Linked DNA regions of Homo sapiens. The protein of the gene in region 2 purifies or fractionates together with the protein of the main gene of each other region. This does not show direct contact. Each region holds a gene or a part of one and is shown on either strand. Other genes may lie near its edges.

Region 1 (3,822 bases), on a different chromosome or scaffold from region 2:
CACTGTTTTCTACCCTAAAATGGCCCCTTTACATTTTTTTTTTAATCAGGGAAGTTTTATTATGTTGGCTTACAGTAACACAATCAGAAAACTATATTGCAGGTCAGGGCCCCCTAGATTCATAGTGTTTGAAGGTAATGAAGAAGATATAAATCAAAATACCTTATCCTGAGAAAGATCTTACCAGCTGTGCAGCTAAGACACTTGAGAACTCGCTATTCATGGCATATGGAAGTGCTGTCTGTGCTCTTGAACCGTAAGTAGTCTGGAACCTCTTCTTTATCTCATTCAGAAAATTAAAGGCTCGGGAACGTTCAAAATCCTGAAAAGAGATCAACACAGAACTCACATTTAGAAAGTAAACAAAGATGATGTGAGTGATTAAGAACAACAATAAAAAACAGCTAACATTTACTGAGCAATGATTATCTGAGGAGGAACTAGCATTGATCCTATCTTAAAGATAAGTAAAGGAAGGCTCTGAAAAAGTAACTAACTTGTCCAAAGGTCCAACAACTAGTAAATGAAAGAGCTGAGAATGAATCCAGATATATCTGGTCATTGACAACTGAAGATAATGATACCTAGGTTATCAACTTCTTGACATCAGGAATTGAATTTTACTTCCTCCATATATTTCATAAGATCTATTAGAAGGCCCAGCACAAGAATATGTTTAATAAATCCCATAATAATCATAGAGTCTTTCACACATACAGATACTACTACTGATATTAACTTCAAATCGAATTTTTTCAATAGTGGTGGTATATTTGAAAAGATCAAGTGACATACTCATGTCTAATCCCAGCCAGCCAAAAAGTATGTGTGTTCTCTGTAAGAATACCTTAGAGGAAAAAAATGAATGTGTGTATGTGTGTTTATGTATACATGTATATGTGTGTATCAAATTATAGCTCAAGAAATATGAGGCTCGACTCTAACTATCCCAGATTTCATTAGTATTTTCCTTCTATTCCAAGCTGTTTCACATCAGTCATTTCACATATAGCTAGATTTTTTCGTACTTTTGGAAAATATTGTGAAGCCAGAGATAAAAATCATTGTGATGATCACTATGGTTGACAGTCATTTCCCTTTCACCCAAGATGCTTAGTCTAAGCCAAGGGTTCTTAAATTGGGGTCAATGGTCCAAATTCAAGGGGCCTTTGAACTTGGATAGAAAAAAAGAAAATCACATCATTATTTTTATCAATCGTTAACTTATATTTCAATTGTGAATATAGGTTGTATATTCATAATCGGGGTAGTATTAAACAGTACCTGTAACTGTCACCAACAGAAATCTTTTTTTGTATACCATCACAGTTACAGATATCTCAAAATACTGTCAACACCCATCACATCAAGACTATTAGTTATTAGACCTATGACTAGATCTTGTTAATGAGTTCATAAAGAAGCATATATATTACTACATCAAGTTTTTAAAATATTTTGAATACTATATATATATATATTTCAATATAATTGGCTTTGTTAGAATTGTGTGTGTTTTATACATTTAAAAGCATTCTGGAAAAGGAAAATTAAAAAAAGAAAACAAAAACATTCTGGGAGTGTCCCACAAGTGACGAGTCTGTGATACAATAAAGATTAGGAACCCTGATCTATGGCAACCATGCCAATTCCAAGTCTCTTTGCCAGTAGGCAGTTTAGAAATGAGCATGCAGCCAATAAGACATGAAAGGAAGTTCACTTTGAAAGCAGGGGGAGGGGAGGGCATGCAGCTGGGAAAAGCTTCCTCATTCCTACAATAAGACACTCAAGAAGACACAGTCCCTCTACTCCGGACATGAATAAATAAGTATGTAGCTCTACGAAACCATAATGGCAACCTGTCTGGGAAGAAGGAGACACGGAGATAAGCAGAGAAGAGAAAGGACCTTAATGACATCATTAAGTTACTGAGAATTTTGGGCTGAGAGCCGACAAACAGTCATACCTAACCAATGTAAACTACAGGTTTATATAGCTGATCATAATGTATTGTAATTTTGTTTTTCCAAAGTTCACATACATTAAAGGATTCATTAACTACTGATAGAAGAAATGATGCTATCTAATTTAACATTCCACGTAAACAATTTTTGAGAGGTTTTGATATCAAAGAATTATAATTATGAACATCAATTCTCACTACAAAATAGAATAAATATAGAAGTTGCAAGAGGCTAAGCTAAAACTCTACCAAAATTGAGTTGATTTGCACATACCCCAGTATCAAGTTTTCTTAACATTTGCTGCTCTATATGACAAATGCAAAATATTAACAATTCCAGCTATGTAAAGTTCGCATCACGTTTGCCCACTATAGGTACAGATCAGCAGTCCCCAACCTTTTTGGCACCAGGGACCGGTTTTGTAGAAGACAATTTTTCCAAGGACTGGGGGAGGGTGAATGGTTTCGGGATTAAACTGTTCCACCTCAGATCATCAGGCATTAGATTCTCCTAAGGAGCATGCAATTTAGATCCCTCGGATGCAGAGTTCACAACAGGGTTCACACTCATATGAGAATCTAATGCTGCTGCTGATCTGACAGGAGGCAGAACTCAGGTGGTAATGCTCATAGGCCACTCACCTCCTGCTATGTGGCCTGGTTCCTAACAAGCCACAGACCTGTACCGGTCTGCAGCCTGGGGGTTGGGGACCCCTGGTATAGATAATTAAGAACTGGCTGTATTAACAGTACACATAGTTAAATAGCAATATGTCTTCAAGTTACTTACATCATCAGTGATACAAAGATATACAATCCTGTCTTGGCAGATGTAATGAAACAAATAACTGTAGAATAAAAGATATAAAACTTACTGTGGTTATAAGCAACATCACTTTTACTTCTATCTTCTATCTATGTATAAGCACGTTCAGTACTGCCAATGTCACCATATTACTTACGGATACAGTCTCTTCTCCCTCTTCCCCTTCCCAATATACCTGTTTCTTTCAAGTCAAACTGATAGAAGTACATAAGAAATAAAAAGATCTCTATTCTAGCTACATAGCACAACAGCATGTGTATTACCCATTAGAACGATAGCTGCAAAAGCATAATTGGACTCTTAAAGCATGAACAAGAGATGACATCTTAGGAGGAGGATGTAATTAAGATTAACCCCCAATAGGCCATATGGTTTTCTTTGCTTTTTCCTAAGTTCTTAAAGCAAACATCTTTTCTACCAAATTCTCAACATTTGAGTATCCACTTTGAGTTAGTTACTGTGCTGGATGCTGAGGATACAAAAAAGCAAAACCACCAAGTCCCAGTCTTCATAGGGATCACAGTGTAAGGAATTACAGTGCAGCATGGCAAACAGGATGACAGGAAAGTTAAAGGCAGTACATGGTGCTCTGGGGACACATTAATAGATGAGGCACGAAATGGAGATTTGCCAAAGGGTAACCAGAAAGACTTCCCAGAACAAGTGATGTCTGATTTAAGACCTGAAGAATAAGTAACAGATGGCAAGGTAAAGAGTGAGCGAAAGGCCAGGCGTGGTGGCTGGCTCATGCCTGTAATCCTAGCACTTTGGGAGGCTGAGGCGGGCAGATCGCTTGAGCTCAGGAGTTCAAGACCAGCCTGGGCAACATGGCAAAACCCCGTCTGTACACAAAATACAAAAATTAGCCAGGTGTGGTGGCACACGCCTATAGTCCCAGCTACTTGGGAGGCTGAGGCAGGAGGATCGCTGGAACCCAGGAGGTTGAGGCTGTAGTAAGCTGAGATTGCGCCACTGCACTCCAGCCTGGGTAACAAAGTGAGACCTTGTTTCAAAAAACAACAACAACAAAAAA
Region 2 (3,822 bases):
TGGAGCCATGCCAAGCACATACTAGATGCTTCATAAGTAGCTTGGCACGGTTCCAAGCAGGTCCCAAGGCCCACCATGCATGACTCAGCTCTTACCTCTACAGAGGAAGAGGTGAGAGCTGGCCCCACCACCACCACGTGCACACATGCATTCCGGTACACACGGCACGCCTGGGGCTGAGCTGATCACACCCATAGTGTTTCTGGGTCACTGAGCTGCAGTTCTGAGCCTGGCCACCAGTAGAAAGCCAGAGTGGGGCCCCAGTGTGAGGGTGGATGCATTGCAGAACAGAAGATGCTGGGCCCTCGAGTCCCGTTCCACTTGCCCCTGCAGATCACAAGTGTCCTGAGAAGGGCTGCCCACACTACCTTACGTAAGAACTGCTATTTTTAGCTTGCTGATCTTGGCTGTATACTGCAAACCTAGGGGATTACCAGTGACAGAACTGACCTGTCCCACCATGACTGATCACCGAGTACCTGGCTGAGGGACAATCTGACAAAACCAGAACTGCATTCCACAAAGAGCAATGACTGCCCAGCAGAGACAACCAAAATGCCTACCAGCAGGGAAAAGGATAAAAACCCGGGGCTACTCACGCAATGAGAGATACAGATCAATGTGGTCTGACGGCAAACAACAAACGTGGAGTGGAAAAACACAGCCTGTAGAATGTTGTATGTAAAGTGACACCACTTATGCAGGAATTACATAACATTCTGAAAGTGTTCAAGAACTATATCTATGAATAAAAATAGGTAGGAGGAAGGCCGGACACAGTGCCTCACACCTGTAATTCCAGCTACTCGGGAGGCGGAGGCAGGAGAATCGCTTGAACCCAGGAAGCAGAGGTTGCAGTGAGCCAAGATGGCGCCATTGCACTCCAGCCTGTGTGACAGAGTGAGATTCCATCTCAAAAAAAAAAAAAGGAGGGGAAAAAAACAAAACAAAAAATAAATAACAAGTGTTGGTGAGGGTGTGGAGAAACTGGAAACTGTGCACTGCTGATGAGAATAGGAACTGGTGCAGCCCCTAAGGAAAACAGCATGGAAGTTCCTTAAAAAGTTAAAAATACTCACGCCTGTAATCCCAGCACTTTGGGAGGCCGAGGAGGGGGGATCATGAGGTCAGGAGATCTAGACCATCCTGGCCAACACGGTGAAACTCTGTCTCTTAAAATACAAAAAATTAGCCTGGTGTGGTGGCGAGCGCCTGTAGTCCCAGCTACTCGGGAGGCTGAGGCAGGAGAATGGCGTGAACCCAGCAGGCGGAGCTTGCAGTGAGCCGAGATCGCGCCACTGTGCTCCAGCCTGGGCGACAGAGTGAGACTCCGTCTCAAAAAAAAAAAAAGGTTAAAAACAGAACTACCATATGATCCAGCAATGCCACTTCTGGATATATATCCAGACTGAAAGCAGGGACTAAAATAAATATCTGCTTTCCCATGTTCATATCAGCATCATTCACAATAGCCAAGAGGTGGAAGCAACTCAAACGTCTGTCAATGGGAGAATGGATGAACAAAATGTGGAACATACATACCATGGAATACTATTCAGCCTCGAAAAGGAAGGTAATTCTGACGCACACTACAACACGAATGAGCCCTGAGGACATCATGCTAAGTAAAGCAGGCCCATCACAAAAGGACAAATACTGTAATAACTTATATGAGATATACATACTGATCAAATTCATAGAGACAGAAAATAGAATGGTGGTTGCCAGGGGCTGCCAGAAGGGGAATGCGGAGGTTGTCTGGGTATGGAGTTTCAGTTTTAAACGATTAAAAAGTTTTAGAGGCCAGGTGTGGTGGCTCATGCCTGTAATCCCAGCATTTTGGGAGGCCAAGGCGGGCAGATCACTTGAGGTCAGGAGTTCGAGACCAGCCTGGCCAATATGGTGAAACCCTGTCTCTACTAAAAATACAAAAATTAGCCAGGGATGGTGGTATGTACCTACAATCCCTGCTACTGAGGAGGCTGAGGCAGGAGAATCACTTGAACCTAGGAAGTAGAGATTGCAGTGAGCCAAGATCACACCACTGCACTCCAGCCTGGGCATCACAGTGAGTTCCGTCTCAGAAAAAAAAAGTTTTGGAGATCTGTTGCACAACAATGGGAATATACTTAACACTACTGAACTGTACACTTGAAAGTGGTTAGAATGGTAAAAATAAAAGATAGGAAGGAGAAAGTCAGGAGTAAGTAGCCTGGGGAGAGGACATAGATGTGACCAGGAATGGAGGGCTCAGATTGGATTCCACTTTCGTCTATAAGGTTTCATTTTTAAAAAAGTTTTTTTAAAAAAAGGCAGCAGCAAACACGATGAAATCCGAATATCTGCCAATTTCAAGAAATGGGAACACGTGTTGCTTCTTCTAATTTAAGGTCTTCAAAAGGAAAAGAATTACAGGCCAGTGTCTGGATTGGGTCCTGGGCTCCATGGGCTGGGGGCCGCTGAGCATGTCTCATGATGGGACGCCTGGCTGGGCCTGATAGGGTGACCACATGGCATCCAGGCCTGGGCACCTGCAGGGGATGTCAGGAGCCCCGAAGAAGCAAGGCCACGTGTGCCCCCAGCCCAGCTGTGTGCTGAGAAGTCAGGCCACTGGTGAAACGGGATGAAAACCCAAACCTGAGACTGCAGACCAAAGCCTCCACATTCAGTAGCTGAGGCAGGTGGGCTTTGTGCCCAGAGAGCAGGTAGCCCTCCCGCAACCCTGGGGGCTTGTTGAGCTCTGGAGACTGGGCCAGCCAAGTGGATGGCATGGAGGAAGGGAAGGAGCAGCACCAGGCAGAAGAGAGCTGCAGGCAGGGGTGCCCAATCCACCCTGGACCCGTCCAGCAGAGGGCAGAGTCCATGACGCTGTCTCTGCAGCCCTTGGAGGGGGTGCAGAACACTCCACATGGGACCCCTTTGCTGCTCTGCCCCCACCCATGACTCACAGACCCCCTCTAGGCTCTTAGGGCTAGTGTCCAGCTGCTGATGGTAAAATGTGGACCAGGAAGGGCGAGGAGGGGCATCTGGTGGCGATGAAAGGGGCTGGGCTGAGAGCTGACCCCACACACTGACTGGGGAAGCCAGGGGCTCACATGTGCCCTCCTTTGTGAACCTGCAGAGGGTCCCAGGTTGGGCGAGGGGCGGGGCAGACAACATCCTCCTGGGAGCTGCCCCGGCATGCTCACCTTCTCTACATGACCACAACTTCACATCCTGGTTTGACCTTGCCTGTAGGTTTTTCTTGGCAAATACAGCAGCCCTGAGTTAGATGGGGAATGCTTTTTTCTTTCTTTCTTTTTTTTTTTTTTCTGAGACATTGTCTTGCTTTGTTGCCCAGGCTGAAGTACAGTGGCACAATCAGGGCTAACTGCAGCCTCGAACTCCAGGGCTCAAGAAAGCCTCCCGCCTCAGCCTCCTGAGTAGCTGGGACCACAGGCATGCACCAACATGCCTGGCTAATTTTTAAATTTGTTTTAGAGGCGAGGGTTCACTCTGTTGCTTAGATAGGTCTTGAACTCCTGGCCTCAAGCAATCCTCCCTCCTCAGCCTCCCAAAGTGCTGGGATAGCAGGTATGAGCCACTGAGCCCAGCTGGGAATCCTTTTTTTTTTTTTAATTGTTCTCACTAGGGAAGTGAACCTCCCTTGCTTAGCACAGGGGAGAAAAAAGCTGAGCCCTGTCCTTACTCATTTGGGGCCGGCCTGCCTCGGGAAGATGTTGGTGACAGAGCTTCCTGGCAGCCTCTGGGCCCTGAGTGCCTGTATTGGCCCCAGTGTGGCCCCAGGGCTGCTGGTAGAGGGGTGACCCCAGCGCAGGCTCA

What was found.
Region 1: the proteins of PLEKHF1 (region 2) and VAMP7 fractionate together in Homo sapiens (co-fractionation; one large-scale study listed by BioGRID). This does not show direct contact.

Annotation. Positions count from the first base shown.
Region 1 is NC_000023.11:155,894,612-155,898,433, reverse strand, and holds part of VAMP7 (vesicle-associated membrane protein 7), read right to left. Parts: intron 2,812-3,822; coding exon 2,754-2,811; intron 323-2,753; coding exon 185-322; intron 1-184. UniProt on the Homo sapiens protein: Involved in the targeting and/or fusion of transport vesicles to their target membrane during transport of proteins from the early endosome to the lysosome. Required for heterotypic fusion of late endosomes with lysosomes and homotypic lysosomal fusion.
Region 2 is NC_000019.10:29,668,211-29,672,032, reverse strand, and holds part of PLEKHF1 (pleckstrin homology domain-containing family F member 1), read right to left. Parts: intron 1-3,822. UniProt on the Homo sapiens protein: May induce apoptosis through the lysosomal-mitochondrial pathway. Translocates to the lysosome initiating the permeabilization of lysosomal membrane (LMP) and resulting in the release of CTSD and CTSL to the cytoplasm.